Linked DNA regions of Homo sapiens. The protein of the gene in region 3 purifies or fractionates together with the protein of the main gene of each other region. This does not show direct contact. Each region holds a gene or a part of one and is shown on either strand. Other genes may lie near its edges.

What was found.
Region 1: the proteins of ESD (region 3) and MDH1 fractionate together in Homo sapiens (co-fractionation; 2 studies listed by BioGRID). This does not show direct contact.
Region 2: the proteins of ESD (region 3) and ACO2 fractionate together in Homo sapiens (co-fractionation; 2 studies listed by BioGRID). This does not show direct contact.

The regions. Positions count from the first base shown.
Region 1 is NC_000002.12:63,585,028-63,592,006, forward strand, and holds the start of MDH1 (malate dehydrogenase, cytoplasmic), read left to right. Parts: upstream 1-3,935; 5' UTR 3,936-4,016; coding exon 4,017-4,019; intron 4,020-4,118; exon of another isoform or gene 4,119-4,300; coding exon of another isoform or gene 4,301-4,357; intron 4,358-6,979. Other genes in the region: WDPCP (WD repeat-containing and planar cell polarity effector protein fritz homolog), read right to left, coding at 3,170-3,244. UniProt on the Homo sapiens protein: Catalyzes the reduction of aromatic alpha-keto acids in the presence of NADH. Plays essential roles in the malate-aspartate shuttle and the tricarboxylic acid cycle, important in mitochondrial NADH supply for oxidative phosphorylation.
Region 2 is NC_000022.11:41,514,008-41,521,119, reverse strand, and holds part of ACO2 (aconitate hydratase, mitochondrial precursor), read right to left. Parts: intron 5,744-7,112; coding exon 5,585-5,743; intron 5,354-5,584; coding exon 5,203-5,353; intron 3,594-5,202; coding exon 3,489-3,593; intron 2,640-3,488; coding exon 2,548-2,639; intron 950-2,547; coding exon 844-949; intron 1-843. UniProt on the Homo sapiens protein: Catalyzes the isomerization of citrate to isocitrate via cis-aconitate.
Region 3 is NC_000013.11:46,780,137-46,787,248, reverse strand, and holds part of ESD (S-formylglutathione hydrolase), read left to right. Parts: intron 1-139; coding exon 140-228; intron 229-2,898; coding exon 2,899-2,997; intron 2,998-4,457; coding exon 4,458-4,582; intron 4,583-5,633; coding exon 5,634-5,753; intron 5,754-7,112.

The DNA.
Region 1 (6,979 bases), on a different chromosome or scaffold from region 3:
TAAAACTTTTATCCTATTAAAATATCCTGTATTTCACCATTCCTGAAAATTCCAGTCAAATGTTATAGTTTAAAATGTGTACAAATTGTGTATGTATAAAATTGTAAGACATAGTAATAAAGTGGTTCTCATTGAGACTACAGTTTTAAATTAAATTACAAGCACTTTTATTTTTGCCATAACTAAATTTGGAATTACTACGTTTAAGATTCACTAAAGTGAATGTAATAATTATTTTTAAAATACTACATATTCATTTTAAGAAATTACTTGAGAATACTTTCAAAAATGTCCTGCATGTCACTTAAGCCAACAAATAATTTCCAAGATACCTAGCATTACACTTAAATTTTAAAAAGGGTAAAAAGCCAAAGTTTTTTTTTTCAGCTAAGGTCAACTATTTAGCTCTGCAATCTTTCCTTTAAAAAATATTTGTAATAATTTGGTCTCTGATTTATTTCACAAGTCTTAACCTTGCTTTATAAATAATCCTATTTTCAATCACACTCCATTATCTAACATGGCTGTTTACTAAATACATGATCCTATGGTAAAGTACATATTTCTAAAAATGTAGCTACTTAGACAGACAGCAATGTAAAGGCATCTTTACATTATAGTACTCTCTAAATATTACATTGTTACTTTCAACAAAAAGGAACCAGATTATAACAAAATTGTTATAAAATAGCTTAAAAGTGTAATAGAACTTCATTAAAGAAAACATTAAGATGAATGAGTTTTAACTAGATCTATAACAATTTTATATATGCTAGAGATAAAATTAATATGAGGTTAAATAATTTTCTTTTTTTTTTTTTTTTTTTGAGACAGGATCTCCCTTTGTCGCCCAGGCTGGGGTGCAGTGATGCCAGTGCAACTTCTGCTTACTGGGCTCAAGCAACCCTCCCACCTCAGCCTCTTGAGGAGCTGGGACTACAGGTGCACAACACCACACTCAGCTAATTTTTTAAAAATTTTTTGTAGAGACAAGGTCTCAGTATATTGCCCAGGCTGGTCTCAAACTCTTCGACTCAAGCAGTCCTCCGGCCTTAGCCTCTCAAAGTGCTGAGATTACAAGTGTGAGCCACCACGCCTAGCTGTGGTTAAATAATTGTATACTATAAAAAAGCATAAGATCTTGTGAGTTCCAAAGTGCCTTGGGTATCAAGAGCCAACATTCTATTTCAGAGATTTGAAACTTAATGATCCTTTAATATCTTTGCTGGATGTTGTTAGAATGGTATTTCAAACATTTTCTACAATTTGAATTAAATATTACCTTACTAAATAACGCGAGGCTGGGCAAAAAAAATGTTAAGCATAACTCCAAATATAGCATAACAGTTTAATGCTCTGTTTGTTGCCTTAACAAAAAATGAATGTCTGCAACACATTCACAAACCACCTGGAGATTCAAACTCACAGTGAAAGTGCAATGACATATTGTGCTACTTGACATTAGCTATTACCAAAGACGGTTCAAAAGGAAGAGAACACAGACAATCTTATTAGTATAATTGGAAATGTGCTGATATACCCACCTTACCAAACATCTTCTCTTGCAGTGTATTATATTACCTGAGAAAAGTAACTTACAATCAGTGCTAATATGCTCCTTAACCTGATTTACAAGGGCAACTAGCAATAAACAGAACAAGGCCCGTGAACTACCACACAGGTGACTTCAATTCTGTATATCTGGACTGGATGGGAATACGGGGGCTTACATGTTTGTGGCCTTCTTGGAGTATGGGAATGTCCTGTCCTGCTATAGGACTGCAGTGAGAATTCTGGTTATAAAAAGTCTCCCTTGTAAAATTCACTGTAAATCGAGGACAAAAATCATGAGATTGTTTTGTTATACTTTAAGTTCTAGGGTACATGTGCACAACGTGCAAGTTTGTTACATATGTACGTATACATGCCATGTTGGTGTACTGCACCCATTAACTCGTCATTTACATTAGGTAAAATCATGATATTTTTAAGGACAACAACATGGAAAAATCTTTCTGTTAGCAGCTAGTAGAAGAATTCATTTAGGAGGATAATGGAAGAAATTTTTCGTAACTGCTCAGAGTAAAAAGTAAAACTCAGAGAACCTAGGTTTGAGAATAATGCACACCTACTAATTCAGGACTAGACACATAAATTTGAGAGTTTTTGACATTAAAAGTAGCATTTGAAGTGATGCAACTTATGAATTAGCTCACTGAGGGATTTAGTATAGACAGAGAATACAGGCACCCCAATGTTAAGAGATCACAACTAAAAAAAATTTAGAAACTCCGCAGAACTGAGAACCAGTAACAAAAGAGGAAAACCAGGAAAGTATGTTGTCTGAGAGCCAAATGAATAAAGAGATACAAGGAGAGTCATTCAGGTATGATATTAATAAATGCTAAAAGTAAAGCATTACATTTCTTTCCAAAAATAGCAAATCCTCCAAACTGAAATAGAGAAAAATTGAAAGATATTACTTGGCATTCATTTATCAGTGACAGAGAAAAAACGGAAGTTCTAACAATGTTATCTAATAGAGATGTTTTATTCATTTTCATTACGTATATGCTGTGTATGCTACTCCCGAGCATCATATCTTCCTTTTAACATCCACAAGAAACAAGCTTTCAAAAAGCACAGCAATTCTCTTGGCAGCATTAATTTTAAAGAGAACCTCTTAAGTTGTTTTACCAGCTGAGACTGACTGACTAAACAACCAGTGTCTCCCCTTCAGTCGCCAGTCTTTCCTTAGAAATGCCTGTTTGGCATAACTTTAAGACTCAAGATGGTTTAAGGCGCATCCTGTTTCTTCCAAAAGGGAATGGACAAAACTCAACATTCACGGAGGGCTTAGAGCAAATTAGAACCGTATACTGTGACCTCCTGGAAGGGAGAGGCTCACCTCCTACAAAGTAAATGCTCAATAAATATTTTTGATATAACTCTGGAAGAGCTCCATTTGGGGTCGGGGGTGCACCTACTCCAGGGCACCACCCCCTCCAAAATAGCTGCATTCCCACAGCCCTCATACTCCGCTCAGAAAAGGGACCGGCGAGCTTGCAGGCATCCGCACAGCGGATAAAAGCAAAGCGGGACGGCGCACCAACCGCATTCCGGATCCTAAGGTTAAAAGAAAACCCCTTGCCCTCGGGCCAGGGCTCACCTGTCTCGGGAGTGGGGAAGAAGCGCGACTCCCGGCCGCTTTGGAGTAGGCGTCCCAGCAAAACTCTCGCCTCATCACCAGACACTACCCCGGGCAGAAGGTTCCTAGGCTAGGTCCTCGGACCCGAGAGGGAGCGACACGCTCGCTTGGTCTCTTGGGTCTCCAGGACGCCGCCGCCGCCGCCACAGTTTCCTCAGGTGCTACAAAGCAGCCAGGGTGTGCGTGCGCTCCCGCCTCGTCGCTTAGCAACCTGAGAAGCTGTCCGGTCGTCCCAACTTATCAATTCCCCCGCCCCTCCAGAGTGTCAATCGTTTTTTAAAAGATTTTGTTTCCGGGTCGATCCAGCTTTACGCAGCGGAAGGTCTCTTTACCTCCCACGTTTACCCTCATGGGAGGATGCAGTCTCAGTCACGCGCGTGGGGGTGATGTCGCTAAGGGGTGATTCTCCCCTCCCTAGAGTTACACACGCTATCTCTCCCGCCAATTGCCGGGCTCCATCAGGCAGGTCCTTTCCTCCTGAGCCCAAACCATCCGTTTGTTGTCGTCCTCCAATCACAGGGGCTCATCCTCAGGGACTACTTTGCAATCGGCGCAGAGCGCAGTGAGAAGAGCTTGAAAAAAACCTCTGGTATCGGGAAGTGTAGTTCAACACTTGAAGGAAATGCTTTGGAGATTGCGCCACAACCAGGGCAGCGTAAACTACAGTTCCCAGAGAGCGCCGCGTCGGGAGCGGAGCCTTTTCTCGCTAACACCGCTCGCCCTCTCCGAGTCAGTTCCGCGGTAGAGGTGACCTGACTCTCTGAGGCTCATTTTGCAGTTGTTGAAATTGTCCCCGCAGTTTTCAATCATGGTGAGTGTGGGCCCCGGGTTCCTGCCCACCTCTGGCCCTCGCGCCCTTGAGTGGGGTTTCTTGCACTTTAGGGACTTTTGGGAGGCAGCTGTGCAAGGCACTGTCCTTCGCGCCCTTTGGCAAGCTCGGACTCATCTTCTGGGGATTGCCGCAGTGACCCAGTAATGGGAAGGGATTGATTTCCACCTTGCGGGGTATGGGGCGCTCTTAGGAGGACTCTGGAGAAGTAGTTGTCCTGGGAGAGGAGCGATCTTAATCCTGCTGCATGACGGGAGGACAAAATGCGACGCTGCAGCTATTTTCCAAAGGACGTTACGGTGTTTGATAAGGACGATAAGGTTTGCGATGGGAGGGAAAGGTTGGGTCCTAACCCCTTTTTCTCCTCATTTGCCCACAGTGTTTATAACGGCTTTTGTCACAGGGACCTTGAAAGCAAAAAGCTGGAAAGGTAGTATTTACCAGGTGCTCCAGATTACGATCTGCGTTTGCAGCAGACGTGTTTCCGCCATATCTAATTTCTCAAAATGTTATTTGGAACCCGTTCATTGACCTTTTTTGTAATGCCAGGATATATTGAAGTGACAGCATCACTAACTAAATAACTACTGCAAATATTCTTTATTGAACTGTATATTGTGAATTCCAGAAGCACCTCTCTTAAATGTAACAGAGTAACCATTTTGTCATGGAAGACCTGGGTAACCTGCATCTCCATCGCTTGTCTCTGCTGAAAGAGAGGGGGAGGGGGAGAGTTGGTGAAGGAACTCTGGCGTAGGAATAATCTGCGTACTGCTTGAAGGTGACATTTGTCATCAAACTCAGAGAAATCGCTTCATACTATCAATACAATGGCTTGTATTTATAGTTGCGACTGTTTTTCCTACTTTATCTGCAAAATACTAAAACGGCTGGAGAATGTGGAGAAATGTTTGAATGAATTGGAAATTTCCCAGAACCTGAAAAGACACGTTTTCAAGGCAAGGGCATTACTCTCTCTGCCTGTCTAACGGGGCCAGTGGAGACAGCTACTAATTTCCAGTAGGTGTTAAACCTAGGTTTCCTAAATGTTTTGTCACATAATTAGTCATTTAAATTATGGTTTCGGTAGTTTCTGTCCTAATAACCTTAGCTAGAAAGCAGAGGTACTTATTATCTGATAACCTTGGACTTTTTGCTTTTAGAACTGAATGGGATCTTTTAAAGGTCATCTTGACGAATCTCCCCACTTCAGATCTTAAAATGGAGTTTATCGAGACCCAAAGAGAATGTGATTTGCTCCAAGAGTCTCACACTCTTGCCATTTTTCTATATTGTGTCTTACACTTACCAAGTCTTTCTGAATTTTTATTTTTATAGGGACCACCGCAGTGAGGTCTCGCAGCGGGGGAGAGACAGTGTACTCAACTCCCTGAAAACTTATTTTTACTAGCTGAGATTCCGGATGAAGTTACCAGTTCATACTGCATATACAAACTCAAATATGTTATCAGCATGTAGATTACTTGATAGCTTTATTCCTTGCCATTCAAAATACTGGAATTGTAGAATTAAAAGGGAATTTGGAGATTATATTATCTACTCTTATAATGTAGTCTGGTGAGGTCAGATAATTTTCCCAAGGTCACAGAGATTTTGGGCCCCAGATTCTTAGCTAGTTTCCCTAGCAAGGCCCCACCGTTGGAAGGTCACTGGGGTGCCAGATAACACAGAGACAGAACATGAGGAAGAATTTGTCTGGCAGTTTGCTGGAACTGACAGCAAACTCACACATGACTCAATTTCCCTGCCCCCTCAGGAGGGTGTGTGAATGGACAGAGTTAGAAAAGAGCCTTCTTCTGTAAGCTCATTCAAAGCGGAGGATTCTTTGCTTGTTGTCTGTAGGGAGTGACAGCAAAATAAACTGTATGAAGGAATCTAAATGGTACTGCTTAGTTTTTTGTGTTATAGAAATACATGTAATTTAGAAATATATATAAATTTGAAAGTGAAAAAGAAATATGTGGCTCTGTCTGTGGAATAACAGACACTTAAATTCAATCTTTATAGCTGAGAAGTTAGCACAGAGCCTGCATCTGCAGGAAAGTCATTGGTGCCCTGCTAAGAGCAAAGACGTTCCTTTTTTGGACCTTGGCACACTGCCCAGATATCTGAGCAAAGAATAGTAACCTATGTTCACACTATAACATTGTGAAAGTCAGCAGGACTCTCCCACCCTCCTGCTTTTCAACTGCAATGTTGCAGAAGAGCAGAAAGAACCATACATGGACTTTTCTTTCTCTGTTTCATCTTCAGACATTCAAACACTAAGCCTCATACTACCATTAATAAGATGGAATTACCTACCTGGGAAAGTAATTTCCCCAAAGACACAGAAGAAAACTGCTGAGGTGGAATTAACTGTTCATTAGGTGGCCACAACCCCTTCACTAAGGACTGTGATACTGTGAACATGTTTTTAAGTAGCTACTAAAATTGACTGCATTATTCTAACCATATAGGTGACCTTATGGGAAGTTAAACTTAATAGATAGTGATCTTCACTCTCTTCAGCCCCCCTTTTCTTATCCTAGTTTGCTGTTCATTGAAGTAGTATCTGTTCATACTTTATACCCTAACCTTCCTTCATTCAACAAATACTTTTTGTGGAAATGCAAATCCATATCAAAGACAGACTGTTCTCAAGAGCGCTTCATGGCCTAATACAGAGCAACAGAAATGTAAATAGAAAACCACAGGCTATTAAAGTCTTTAGAGGAAAATTCTGTGATGATATTTATAAATACTCACTACGTACTGTTCTTAGTGCTTTGTGTGTTAACTCTTTTAATCCTTAAAACTACTCTGTTTGTTAGGTAATTGCTATTATTATCTCCATTTTACTATGGGGAAATAATACAGAAAGGTTAAGTAACTTGTCCTAGAGCATGCAGTTAATGAGTTGTGGAGCCAGGACTTGAACA
Region 2 (7,112 bases), on a different chromosome or scaffold from region 3:
TTCTCTACAATAAACATATTTTTCTTTTCTGCCAAGAAAAAGTAATTTTTCTTTTCTTTCTTTTTTTTTTTTTTTTTTTTTTTTGGAGGCAGGCTCTGTTGCTTGAGTCTGCAGTTTTGAGTCTGCCTTTGTTGCCCAGGCTGGAATGCAGTGGTACCATCTCGGCTCACTGTAGCCTTGACCTCCAGGACTCAAGTGATCCTCCCACCTTAGCCTCCTGAGTAGCTAGGACTATAGGCATGCGCCTCCACACCTGGCCAATTTTTTTTTTTTTTTCTGAGACGGAGCCTCGCTCTGTCACCCAGGCTGGAGTGCAGTGACACAATCTCGGTTCATTGCAACCTCCGCCTCCTGGGTTCAAGCGATTCTCCTGCCTCAGCCTCCCAAGTAGCTGGGGCTACAGGTGCCTGCCACCACCCCTGGCTAATTTTTTGTATTTTTAGTAGAGATGGGGTTTCACCGTGTTAGCCAGGATGGTCTCGATCTCCTGACCTCATGATCCACCCATCTCGGCCTCCCAAAGTGCTGGGATTACAGGTGTGAGCCACTGCCCCTGGCCAATTTTTGCATTTTCTTTTAAGAGACGGGGTTTTTCCATGTTGCCCAGGCTGGTCTTGAACCCCTAGACTCAAGTAATCCACCTGCATTGGCCTCCTGAAATGCTGGGATTTCAAGCATGAGCCACCACTTCTGGCCGAAAAAGTAATTTTTCAATAATAAACCCATTTCAGAAACTGCCCACCTTAGAAAGTGCCACACAGTAGGCATAGGTGATTGTCTACAGCCCTGGGCAGAGCCACTGGCCCTGAGACCTGCTAAACAGATGGGGTGGAAGGTGCTCACCCACTCGGATGTCCAGAGGCCATCCTTCCTTCTCTGCCACCTTGCCCACTTCTGCCACAGGGTGAGCCAGGTCAGGGGTGAAGGGCCCATTGATGTGTGGCTTCAGCTGAAGAAACAAACATGCAAGGAGAAGAAAGAGAGGAGGGAAGAAACCTTGAAGCGGGGACAGCCTCTTTCACTGCCTCACCACGTCCCCACAGAGAGGCCAACGACTTTCTCTTGACTGAAACCTCATCACAGGGAAGAACTGAGCAGTTGGCTCTGCACACACCCGCTCCCGGGCTCCCTCCAGCCCTGCAAGGCTGGGCTCAGCTCTGCAGATGAAGGAACTGAAGCTCAGAAGTGACATGCTGTGCTTGAAGTCACATAGCTAGGAGACAGCAGAGGCATGGAATGGATCAAGGCTGTCAGCTTCCTAAGTTCATTATCTCCCATTCGATGTTGCTTTTGGAATCTTTTTTTTTTTTTTGAGATGGAGTCTCGCTCTGCTGCCCAGGCTGGAGTGCAGTGGCACGATCTTGGCTCACGGCAGCCTCCGCCTCTCGGGTTCACACCATTCTTCTGCCTCAGCCTCCCGAGTAGCTGGGACTACAGGCGCCCGCCACCACGTCTGGCTAATTTTTTTGTATTTTTTTAGTAGAGACGGGGTTTCATCACATTAGCCAGGATGGTCTCAATCTCCTGACCTCATGATCTGCCCGCCTCGGCCTCCCAAAGTGCTGGGATTACAGGTGTCAGCCACCATGCCCGGCCGCTTTTGGAATCATGACAAAAATGGACTTAAGGCCAGACGCTTTACATATCATAATCATCAGTAAATGCGAGGCACTCAGCTATGTGCGCAGCATGCAGTAAACCTCCGTCAGTGTTAGTTACATGAATTCATTCAATCCTCACGACTGCTGTAGGTTCCACACGTGATGGAGCAAGGGGCCTACAGAGGCTAAGTGCGTGACCAAGGCCACACAACTTAAGTGGCAGAGCCGAGGTGTGAACTCCTGCAGACGGGATCCTCTAGCCTGCCCTTCCTCTGGCTCTGCAAACACCTGCTCTGATCTGTGCGTCTCAGGGTGCCTAACCCTGCTGGGATTTGCCCTCTGAACTCAGATAACAAAAACCCTTCAGGGTGAAACCTTGGCTTCTCCTAAAGCTGAGCTGGTGGCAAACTGACATCCACTTCTGGTTCAGCAGCCAGAGCTACCTCTGCTCTCCCCGTGGCTGTGTCTCCCCCCTCCCCACCCACTGCTCCAGGCTGCTTCAGGAAGCAGTTTGCAGGAACACTGGGGACCCAGGGGCCCACGAGTCACCCTGAGGTTTTTCTTGTTTTGTTTTTGAGACAGTGTCGCTCTGTCGCCCAGGCTGGAGTGCAGTGGTGCGATCTCGGCTGACTGCAACCTCTGCGTCCCGGGTTCAAGCGATTATCTTGCCTCAGCCTCCTGAATAGCTGGGATTATAGGCACATGGCACTATGCCGAGCTAATTTTTGTATTTTTTTTTTTTTTTTTAGTAGAGACGGGGTTTCACTATGTTGGACAGGCTGGTCTTGAACTGCTGACCTCAACTGACCCACCTGCCTTGGCCTCCCAAAGTGCTGGGATTACAGCTGTGAGCCACCACCCGGCCCTCAGTGAGTATTTAGGCAGGACCCGCCCTGCTCCCCACTACTCTCAGAAACTTCTTGAACCCAGTTAATTGTCTCCTCACCTCACTGAGGTTAATTTCAATTAGTTGGTCATAATGGCAGCCAGGGTCAGGCACCAAGTGATCCTTGAATTCATCAGCTAGATTGGCAATGTCTGAAATCAACAAGGGACGGGGATGGAGCACGTGAAACATAAACTGTTCTTGAGAGTTCACTCACCACCCACCTGAGCACCTGCCAAACACCAGGCCCACCCTGGGCACTGACTAGGCCAATGAAGAAACCAAGGCTGCTGTCTCTGCCCTTACAGAGCTCACACCCTAGTGCAGGAGCTGTCAGGGACACGGAGACACAGAGGAGGAGCGCCAGCTAAGGTTCAGAGCCGGGGAGGGTGTCCTGGAAGTGAAGAGCTGGGTTTTGAAGAAGCAGTCACTCAATAAGGAAAGGGAGGAGCCTTCCAAGGATTCCACGTGCTTACGGCTCTCCCCATGGCCCCTGGTCTCTGGCTCCTCGTTCACTCCCACAACGCACCACCCTTCACAGGTGCCAATGCCCTCTGAGCTCCAAAGAAGCCAGGCTAGAGCCTCAGGGAAGTTGTCAGGGGAGGCTGGGAAAGTGGTTCTCCTTCCAAATGTTCCCCTGCTAGGTCAGGAATTATCAACAGAAGCGATCCATGTCATTTCCGGAGTTTCCTGTAGGGGGCAGCAGGGACCAGGCCGAGAAGGGCGGGCATTCAGCCACCTTCCAGGGAAAATGAAATGCCCATCCTGAGGTGGGGCTATCTTGAACTCAGATGCCAGGCCCTTTGAGAAGCTGGAGAGAGCTCCAGACAATCTACTCAGAAACATATTGCACCTCTTCAGGGCTTTCTCAGAGCCTCGGACGCCTGTCTGGAGACAATGGGTTAAGAACCCCTGCCCTACAGGGAAAGGCATAGCTCTGTCTTGGGGAGGAGCGGGCATGTGACTGTTCCACCCACACGGGCCTGCCCCTGCCAGCTCACCTTCCCGGCCGGTCTTGCTCAGGTACTTCTTCATCCTGTGGTTGTAAGGGAACACGGAAGTGGTGGCCCCAATTTCTGCACCCATGTTGCAGATTGTCGCCATGCCTGTGGAGCAACAGAGCCCCGGGCATTGGCTGGTGGCCGGGCCAGGGTCCCACACACCTGCTACGCGGCCACCTGCATCTTCACACCAGGGAGCTGCATTGCTTCTCCTCCCACTCAGAGAGATGTGGTGACAGCGGGCCGACTCATCCCTTGAGGCCCTGGGTAAAAACCTGGGCCGGTGAGGGGAGGCCATGGGGATCAGAGCTCAGGGCCCCAGCTCAGGGTGGCTGCTGGGTAGAATGAAGAGGACTCAGGTGAAGATTCAGCCCCCACACACTGAGCTGCGAGCTTGGGGCCTGACTGTCGCCCAAGAGATTGAACAGGCACCACGTACTGTAGGCTGACCTGACCAGACACTGCCCAGTTGCTATTCTTTTTGGCAGGGGAGGAACTGGCTCAGAGAGATTCAAGGTCATGCCATAAAGCACATAAAGGTAGATGCTGACATTCGGATCTTGGTCTGTCTGCCTGGTGGCCTGCCCTCCTTCAGCCATACCATGGTGGAGACACTTTTCTGTGTCTCAAGTTTTCCAGTGATGGAGGCCGAGGTGGGTGGATCACCTGAGGTCAGGAGTTTGAGACCAGCCTGGCCAACATGGTGAAAACCCATCTCTACTAAAAAAAAATACAAAAAAAATTAGCCAGGCATCATGGTGCACACCTGTAATCCCAGCTACTCAGGAGGCTGAGACCGGAGAATTGCTTGAACCCAGGAGGCGGAGGTTGTAGTGAGCCGAGATTGCACCACTGCATTCCAGCCTGGGCGACAGAGTTAGACTCTGTCTCAAAAAACAAGAACAAAAACAAAAACTGAAATGATACACACTGTCTGGACCACAAAGCGTCACAGAACTGGTGGGGCTCACAGGTACTGCAGCTGCTACCAGGCCACCTGCCTCAGGAGCCACTAGGACGGAGGTATGGGCCTGTTACCAACGTCCTGACTGAGCAGTCCCGTGGCAGGAGTGAGCCCCCATCACTGCAGGGGAACCAGAGTTCTGCAGGGCTGCCAGGGAGCCCAGGCAGGCACCTGGGAAGTCTAGACTGTTACAAATCTCCCTGGATTTCTGAGGACCAGGCATCCAGGCCAGGTCACCAGGAGTGACAGGCAGGGAGCAGCTGGCTCCTACCTGGTCTTGGAGGCGGACAGGCACCGATCTCTAATCCAAGGGAAGTGAGTGAGGCTCGAACTTCAGCGAAGGGAGGATGTGGGCCTGCAGCTGCTTCATGAATGAAGCCCTGGCTCTGCCCATTCCCACCACTGCCTCTGTCCTCTCTGGATTCGTCTAGATCACCCAAGGTGGCCTAGTGCTATGGCCTGGGCCCAGCAGCAGAAGCTGACTTGGCTCCTAACCGTGTGTGGCCACACAGTTAGGAAGTCACCGGCAGCCTCGACAGGTATCTCAATCTCTTCATCTGTTTAATGAGGATGTGGACTAGACAATCTCTAATGCTGTCTCCAATTTTCCTTCTACCTCTGTCTATCCCAAGTCCCCAAATGGAACAGACAGATTCTCAAGTGAAGGCCATTCACCGCTTCTACTCCCAACTGGAGACCCATCAGGCCCAGCACAGGGTAGGGGCCACGTCGCCTGGCCGCCTTCCTCACCAGTGCAGGAGATGGAGTCTACACCAGGCCCGTGGTATTCCACGATTGCACCTGTGCCACCTTTCACCGTGAGGATGCCTGCCACCTTCAGGATCACATCTTTGGGTGAGGACCAACCGGAGAGAGAGCCCGTCAGCTTCACGCCAATCACCTGGACAGGAGGGGGCGAGGCGGCTGTGAGAGGCCGTGTGTGCCTGTGCCAGCCACGAAGTCAGGATGGCCCTGCTGCCATTCACATTGCTGCTTATTGGTCTCTACCTCCCTCCCAGAAGATTCGAGTCTAACTTGTTCCCTTTTCCCTCCTGGGTCCCACCGTCTCCCGTTCATCCCCACCAACCACCACCCCACAGCCAGCCCAGAATGAGTCCCTCCCCACCCTCACCTTGGGGCACTTCAGCTCCCAGGGGATCCCAGCCATGACATCCACAGCATCGGCACCCCCAACTCCAATGCAGATGCCCCCAAGGCCGCCACCATTGGGGGTGTGGGAGTCAGTGCCAATCAGAAGAACACCAGGGTACGCATAGTTTTCCAGAATAATCTGAAAAATAATCCAAGATGTTATATTTAGAAGCCCTCAGCCGAGAATACCAAAAAATGGCCCCACTGACCCGGGGCCTCCCAACCACGTCCAGCCACTCTCCCAGGATGGAACTGGTAGGAGCAGCCCCATTTAATCCAGGCCGTCTCCAGGGTGGCCAAGAAGAGCCAGAGCCTTGGGAGACAGGTGGCCTGGGCTCTTGAATAGCTCTGATATTTCCTGCTATATGTCTTGGGCCTTTGAATGCTGCCCCATGCCTCAGTTTCCTCATTTGTAGCACAGTAACCAAACACCCATACCACCATGACCCCAGGATGTGACAAGAACCAGAGAAACTGTCCTGTGATGGGCCCAGGCCCGGCCTCATCCTGGGTGTGGAGCATCCCCACCTGGCTTCTCATCGGGGTTGGTGGTTCTTCCAGGAGCTGGCTCCAGCCCCACAAGGCCCCTGAGGAAGAAGTCCTGGGAGGCCCCAGTGGGTACACAAAGCTATGAACTTTTCCTCAACTGCAAAGAATAGGTGATGCCTCGTCCACTTCAGCATCTGGAGGTGGCTCTGAGAACCCATGTGACTTGCTCAAGGCGCGATGCCACCCTGCCTCATCACCTGTCCCATTTCACAGTACTCCCTTCACTGAGGCGCTCCTCCCAGCCGTGGGGAGCACTTCCCCCAAAACATTTGGTAAGAAAGGCAGCAACACCTCAACACCCAAGTGCTCAACACCTTGGGTGCTGTATAGGCTCAACACCCAAGTGTGGCCCAGGCACCAGGCACCTCTGAGGCACTGGCCCCCTGAAGCTGCAGGACACTGCTTGGCAAGCCCTGAGCCAGGCGTCCTGTATCGGGGGGTCTGAGGTCTGGCCCCACCATCTACTAGTTGTTGTGGGACCATGGACAAGTCACTTCTCTCGGAGCTCAGTTTCCCTATCAAGAAATAGCTAACAATCGTGCTCACATCATTGGTTCACTGATGACTGGATGAGATCCTGTCCATGAGGCACAGAATAGTGCCTGCGGGAAGCAACATTTTTATTTATTGTTTTGCAGCAAGAGCCTTCACCTGAGGTTCTGCCGCTCATCAGTCAGATGGAGTTAGTGCCCCACCCGGGGATGTGGGGAAGAACACATGAGAGGTGTGACAGGCTCTGTGAACTCTCAGGACCCACCAGTGCTCCCAGAAATCTTACAGAAACCCCAGGGCCTCTGCCTCAGGACAAGCATCTGCCTAGCAGACTCTAAGGTCCAAAGGTCTCATCTCTTGGGGATGCAGAGGGAAGACCTGGCTGCGAAGAACTGGCCAATGCTGCCACGTACAAGGATTTAAGACTAGTGCATCCCTAAAGAGCCTCAAGCTTGTAAAAGTTGGAT
Region 3 (7,112 bases):
ACCACTTATTTTGAACATTAAATAACTTATTTTGGACCTTTAGTATATATCTTACTTTTTATATAGTGCATAATTATTTTGTTTCTGTATTGATTAATGAGGGGCATTAATATTTTGTTGTTGTTTTTGTTAAAACTAGTGTTGAACTAAACTGCAAAATGAAATTTGCTGTCTACTTACCACCAAAGGCAGAAACAGGAAAGTGCCCTGCACTGTATTGGCTCTCAGGTAAGTATTATGCATTTGAGTTTTATAAAGTCGTTTCTATTTTCTTTTTAACTGGCTTATCTTACCCTTTTATTTTAACTTGGTAGGCTTTTTGAGCCATTTATGAAAGACTTTAAGGACCTGTCATAGTCTACTCTGTTACTTTTATCCTCAGAATAATTTCAGACCTACTGAATTATATTTATTTCATATATTTTTCTAATAGACCAAGTAATTTAGCAGAGAATGTAAAGTTCTGTACTCAATAGCAAGGGCTTAGAAAACTTATTTACTTAATTTGGACCTACCCAAGCATTTCTGGAGTTTATAGAGACTTTACTAGTCCATTAGAACAATATTAGGTGAAATCAGGACACCAAGATACTCTAATTAGAAACCAGCTATTGTAAAAAGTCAAATAACTTACAGTGTTCTCTAAAATATTTTAACTGGACTCCATAGAGCTTCTCTGACAACAATCTGGAAAGTCACAAAAGAACGCTAAGGCTTCTCTTAATCAGTGTTTCATATTAACTACTGTAGAATAGATTGTGAAGAGTAAGATTTTGACACCTGCAGTTTTGAAACCTCTATGCTAACTTTTCTTTCACAAGACGCTGGTACTTCATCTTCAGAAGCAAACATAAGGAGAGAATCCTAGCAACTAAATTGTGTCACAGAGTACTATTTTAATTTTGTTTCCTTCAAATTGGTTCCTGTAACTTTGATTTAACAAATCCTCCCTCATGTGTGTTTCATCAAGGACAAGTCCCAAATACCAGTCTTTGAAAATGAGAATAAATATTTCATCTTAAAGGGTAAAGATTAAGTGCATATCTGACTTTAACTCAAGAAAACATTTCTGTGATTGAATGAAGAGCACTGATTTTGCTAGAAGAGCATTAGGTATTGCTAAAAGCAAGAGCAACAAAATTAGTTATTTAATTGTCTTAGAAAATATAATATTGTATAGCTAAAAATGATCTTAGAAATCATGTAATCCCTAGAAAGAAAATGAGGCCCAGTGAAGCTAAATATTGTCCAGGGTCACACGCTAATGTGGAGTTGAACAAGTTTTCTGACTCACAGTCCAGAGCTGTATTTAGTTTTTTCTCCTGTTGTTTTTGCGTTTTGTTTCTGGTGAGGGGTACTATAGTCATATCTCTTGGCTAAACAATAATAACCAGAAGCCCTGAGGCATTGTGTCATAGGTACTCTAATAATAGGGCCCTAAGTTTTAACTAAAATTGAATCTAGCAAGACATATCTGAGCTTTACAAGTATAAAATACAGAATTTTTGTTTGTTTACATCAAATGACAGGACAGTTTCCTTAGTGAGATGCTGAAGAACAGATAGACCTTGGAAATTAAGGCTTGATTTTCTGAGTAAAGGTAAGATTGCCTGACCAGTGCACGTGAGAAATGGTGACAAAAAAATTTCAGAAGGTTTACTTCCCAGCAAGTCTAAGGAAAACAATGACAGAAAGATTACACAATTATTATATAGCTAAAATAGAGAAATTAGCTGAAATCAAAACAGCCAAACTGAAATCTTAAAAGATAGTTCATGTGTAGTGATTTGTATCTTTCCCAAGTGAAGGTGACCATTGAAACAGCCCTTTATTAGCTGTGTACCCAATAGAATTGAAAACATGTCCATACAGAAACTTGCACATGAATGTTCATGGCACACTATTATAATAGCCAAAAAGTATAAACAAACCAAATCTCTCTCAACTGGTGAAATGATCAATAAAATCGATTGCTAGTTCATTCCTCACCATTCTCACATCATTGTAGTATTAGATACCTATAGTAAAAGAATTAAGTCATCTCCTCTATCATGACTGAAAAGCATGGAGCTAGGAAAAATAACAGAAACTTCTAAAAACTGAGGCTAAAACTCAATTTAAGGATGGCATATGGTCACCATTACTCTCTTTTTAGTTCAGTGAAGAATACAAAGATGATTAAGCTAAATTTTGTTGCTGAGAACTATCTGTATGTAAAAAAAAGTATTTGTATTATGAAGACCATAGTATTTGCTTATTTACTGTGAATATGTTTTGGTGCAGAAATAGTGCGATGTTTAATTAGCATATTTGATAACACTTCACTGGGGTTGTTTTAATATTGGGCTTATGCACCATATTGTCACTCTACAGTTTGAAAATTTCTGAATTCCCAAACACTCCTGGTCCAAAGGATTTTAGTAATTGAAACTTTAGTAGTGATTTTAAAAGGATAGTTATGGGATCACTTAACCTAACACAGTTCTTAGGTTAATACTATTACAAATTTTGTGAAAAAGTGAATTTTAGTGTCTTACTCAAAATTGTTTCTAAAGCAAAAAAAATAATAATACCAAATGAGCTTGTTTTCCTGTATTATAAACAGTTTAAAGCTTATAAACCATTCACAATATAGCATGAGATAATTTATTTTTAATAATTTCAACTTTTATTTTAGATTAAAGGGGTACACGTGCAGGTTTGTTATATGAGCGTATTGCGTGACATGGAGGTTTGGGGTATGAAAGATACCATCACCCGGGTAGTGAACATAGTACCTAACTGGTAGTTTTTCAGCCCTTGTCCGTCTCCGTCTCCCCCTGCTCTAATAGTCCCCAGTATTAATGGTGCACATCTTCATGTCCATGTGTGCCCAATAACAATATTTTTTATCTTCAGGTTTAACTTGCACAGAGCAAAATTTTATATCAAAATCTGGTTATCATCAGTCTGCTTCAGAACATGGTCTTGTTGTCATTGCTCCAGATACCAGCCCTCGTAAGTGTTTGTGGTCTAGATATCCTTTGTAAAAATCTAAATCTTTAAGACTGGTATAAAGTGGTATGATATATACATTATACAATTCATTTTATATTTTTGCTGTTATCTCTATTAACCTTTCAAGTGGCATCATGACTCCAAAATACCATGCTGTACATTTTCCTCATTGAATTTTACTCATGACATGGCCTTTATGAAAGAGGATAGTTTTGCTATTCCCATTGTACAGATTAAGATACTTCAAAGCAGAGATTGAGCAACTCAATTCATATATCATGTTGGCACTACTGTCAAAATACTAATGTGTAATGCATAGGAAATTATTTTTCTATTCCAGAGGTATACTGTCTTGTTGCATGATAATTACATCTTTTTTCATCTCTGTTAACATCAACCATACAGTTAAACAAGTATTAGTTTTAATATAAATGATTTGAATATTTACATTAGAGAAATGAAAATATCAACTACGTGAGACTCAATGCATCAGACAGTTAAAACTTGTTTTATGACTCTAGAAGTTTCAGGAAATGGAATTTAAATGGCAGTAAAACTAGGGAAGTTATATGGCTGGCCTGGCAAGTAGTATATTTCCTTTCACAGGCCATATTATACAAAAACAATGCATATCTGGTTAGAAATATAACAACAGATTTAATTCAAAATAATATCAAAAATATAAAATACGAAAATAGATATATAAAAGGGAAACTAAAATTTTGTTATCATAAACGAAGACTTTAATAAATGGGAAAATGCTGTGTTTCTAGATGGATAAAATGAATCTTACGACAAGGTCATGTCTCCAAATTACTCTACGTGTTACTGTAATTCTATTCAAAATCCCAATGGTTGGCTTTTTAACCACATGCAAGTATATAAAATAAAATGTAACAAGTTAAAAAGAAACATAAGAAAATTCCAGTGGAGGTTGGATAGATAGGAAAAATGTGATGGAAAGCATATTAGAAAACATTTTCAGTTCAAGATAGTAAGTTGAGCACAAGCATCTGCCTCCCCACTCCTGTGTAAAGAGAATTTAAAAAGTGCTGATAGTGAGAGAGGGTCATCAGGGAAGGGATCACAACACATTTCTGAAAGATAAAAAGAGGATATAAGTCCTTTTTGACAGGTAAACCAGAGTAAGGAAACATATGTTCAGAGTACATAAGAAACTTCATCAACAAAGAAAGTTAGTGTATCTTACCTTGGCAGCTGAATACTCCAGCTTGGAAGGTCATTTTTTACCTCATTGGCCAGAACGAGTCGCAGGGCCCCATTCAAGGGCAAGAGGAGCAGGAAGTATAATCCTATCATGTGCTCCAAAAGGCAGAGAGCTCACAACATTTGGTGAACAGTTCCCATGCAAATGGACTTGCAGATTCATCTGAAAGTGTGTTATTAAACATGGGCCATTACTACAGAGCAGATGAAACCACAAGATTGTTTCTTGATAGGTGGCTGCAATATTAAAGGTGAAGATGAGAGCTGGGACTTTGGCACTGGTGCTGGATTTTATGTTGATGCCACTGAAGATCCTTGGAAAACCAACTACAGAATGTACTCTTATGTCACAGAGGAGGTAATTTAATTTGTATTGTAATTATTAATTGATGACTGCCAAGAGTTTGATTTTGAACACAAAGTCCTTACAATCCTGAGGATTTTAAACTAGGGTATAAAAGTTACTAGTAAAAATTCCAAAGTTTGCTAGTACTATAGTTCTATTTACTGCAATTTAAATTAACACTAAGTACAATTAAAGAATATAATCATTATATTGAGACCTGTTTATACTACCCAGAATAACCAAGAAAATGGTATATGAAAAAAACCTTTAATTTGCCTGGCAGCTGGTTCATTTGGATGTATTTTATAGTGATAAGCCAAGGCTTAGTTAGAAAACATAAGTGGTAAAGCATTACCTCTATTAATAATATTTGTATGCTGCTTATGCATTTTCTGAATTTTATATGATTTTCATTGTTACTATGTATATCATAAAAACTTAGAAACAATAGTGTAAGTTTTTAATTACCCATAATTCTGTTACCCCCCCAAAACACTTATGTTTTGGTATGTTCCAGACTGTTTCTATGACTAGTTTTCACGTAATTCTAAACTTTTTTATTTTCTTCTTCTTTTTAAGTTACATATAAAAATATTTTCTAGTGTTATTCTGATTTTAATAATTGTGTAATATTCTGTCATATGCCATAATTGACTTTTTCCTCTTATAGAATACTTATGGTTTTGTATATGTTTTTACCCTAATAAATATTACTGCATTGATTATATTTGTGCATAATGTTTTCTCCCTAAGGACTTTTCCTTAGAATATATTCCAAAAAGTGAAATTACTAGGTCAAAACTTAAAAGCATTTTAAAGGTTCTTTCTGCATCACCTTCCTAAAGTGTTTTCTAAGAAGTCTGTACCATATATTTTCCAGGGATATATTAATAATCATGGTCTGCCTGAGGATTTAGTTTTGTTTTGTTTTCATTGTTACTAGTTCAAACCATTGTAAGACTATGATTTGGCAGTATTGATTGTGTAATTATTTTCTGTAACTTTGAAATGTCTGAACTTATTTTCTTTGATATCTTTTGTCACACTATTAAATTTTTTCTAGCTTCCCCAACTCATAAATGCCAATTTTCCAGTGGATCCCCAAAGGATGTCTATTTTTGGCCACTCCATGGGAGGTCATGGAGCTCTGATCTGTGCTTTGAAAAATCCTGGAAAATACAAAGTAAGATTATCTAAACTTCTAGTGATAAATATTTCTCTTGAATAACATAATATTAGGAACCTTCAAAGAGTAAAATTACAATATTGTTAGTATTGGAACTAAACTTTTCTAGTGTTGAGAACTTTGGGGTGTTTGAAGGGTGGGTATTTAATTTGACCATAGAGTGTATGCTGCAGAATCAGACGCATAGGAATTCAGCAAGAGTGCTTTCTTATTGGCCTACTGGAAGTATTATAAAATGTAGCTTCTCCTTTAATTGTTTTTATTCCAACTATAGTTTTGAACACACTTTTTTTCTGTAAAGGTTATTATTACTGATTAATGTTATAGTGGCAGGATCTATCATTTATATTCTTACCAGGGATGTCTTTGTAAAGTTGACTTTGATTTTCTGAGGTAAAAGATATGATTTGTAGAAGCTTAAGAATTGTGTTCTTAATGCCTCTAATGAAAATTGAAATGCAGCTTGATTAAAAAACATCACTCTCAGCCTTTCCCAGAGTCAAATTTGAATAACTACCATATGTAGTATGTCATACTGTGCAGAACAGCATGTTACAAGAGTTGAATAAGGAAGTGTTAAAGCAACTAGCATCTTAAAATTTCTTCTGCCTTTAAATTTACAGGGCTGTTCATGCCCTTAAAATTGGTTTAATTCATTTCCTCCTCTTAGGAAGAACTTGATTATTTTAGGTGTGCTACTGAGAAATGAAAACATTTCTCATAACAGTTTCTTTCTGTGGCATCAAATATTTTGTTTTTGGTACGCTTTATTATCAAGTTTTATTAATTCATGGCCTGACAGTGGGCTTTCTAAGTAAGCACTTTTATTTCCATTTTTTAAGGCAGTCTATCATGTCTGAGGTAGAAAAGCAAACTTAGTTGATTTTTTTGTCCTTTAAAAAAGCTAGTAGATACCACTAAACATTTACATTGATGAGTACTCTGAAGTTGAGAGATCCCATCTCTGCATCTCATCCAGTGAAAAAGAACATTGTATAGAACACAGAGTTGTATTAAAAATTCTGTCATATTGAAATGCATTGCTCACTGCTTTGTTGGTACTGTTTAAGAGAAATGTGTCAGATTTAGTAACATGTTCACTAAGGTAAGCATGAACTGTTTTATATCACTATAGATTAATTTTCAGTGCTAAAAAAGCAGAAACGCTGAACATAGACTTCTGTTTGTATCTTAAATTGCAATGTATTGTTTTGCATTATTTTAGCAACTATACTTATTAGCTCTCTTAATAGAATACACAAAAGATGTATTATGGAAAGGCCTGCAATCTAAGCCAGCAATATATCAAAAGGAAAATTGTTCACAGGGTTTTCATGGCAAGTCAGAATTTTTAAG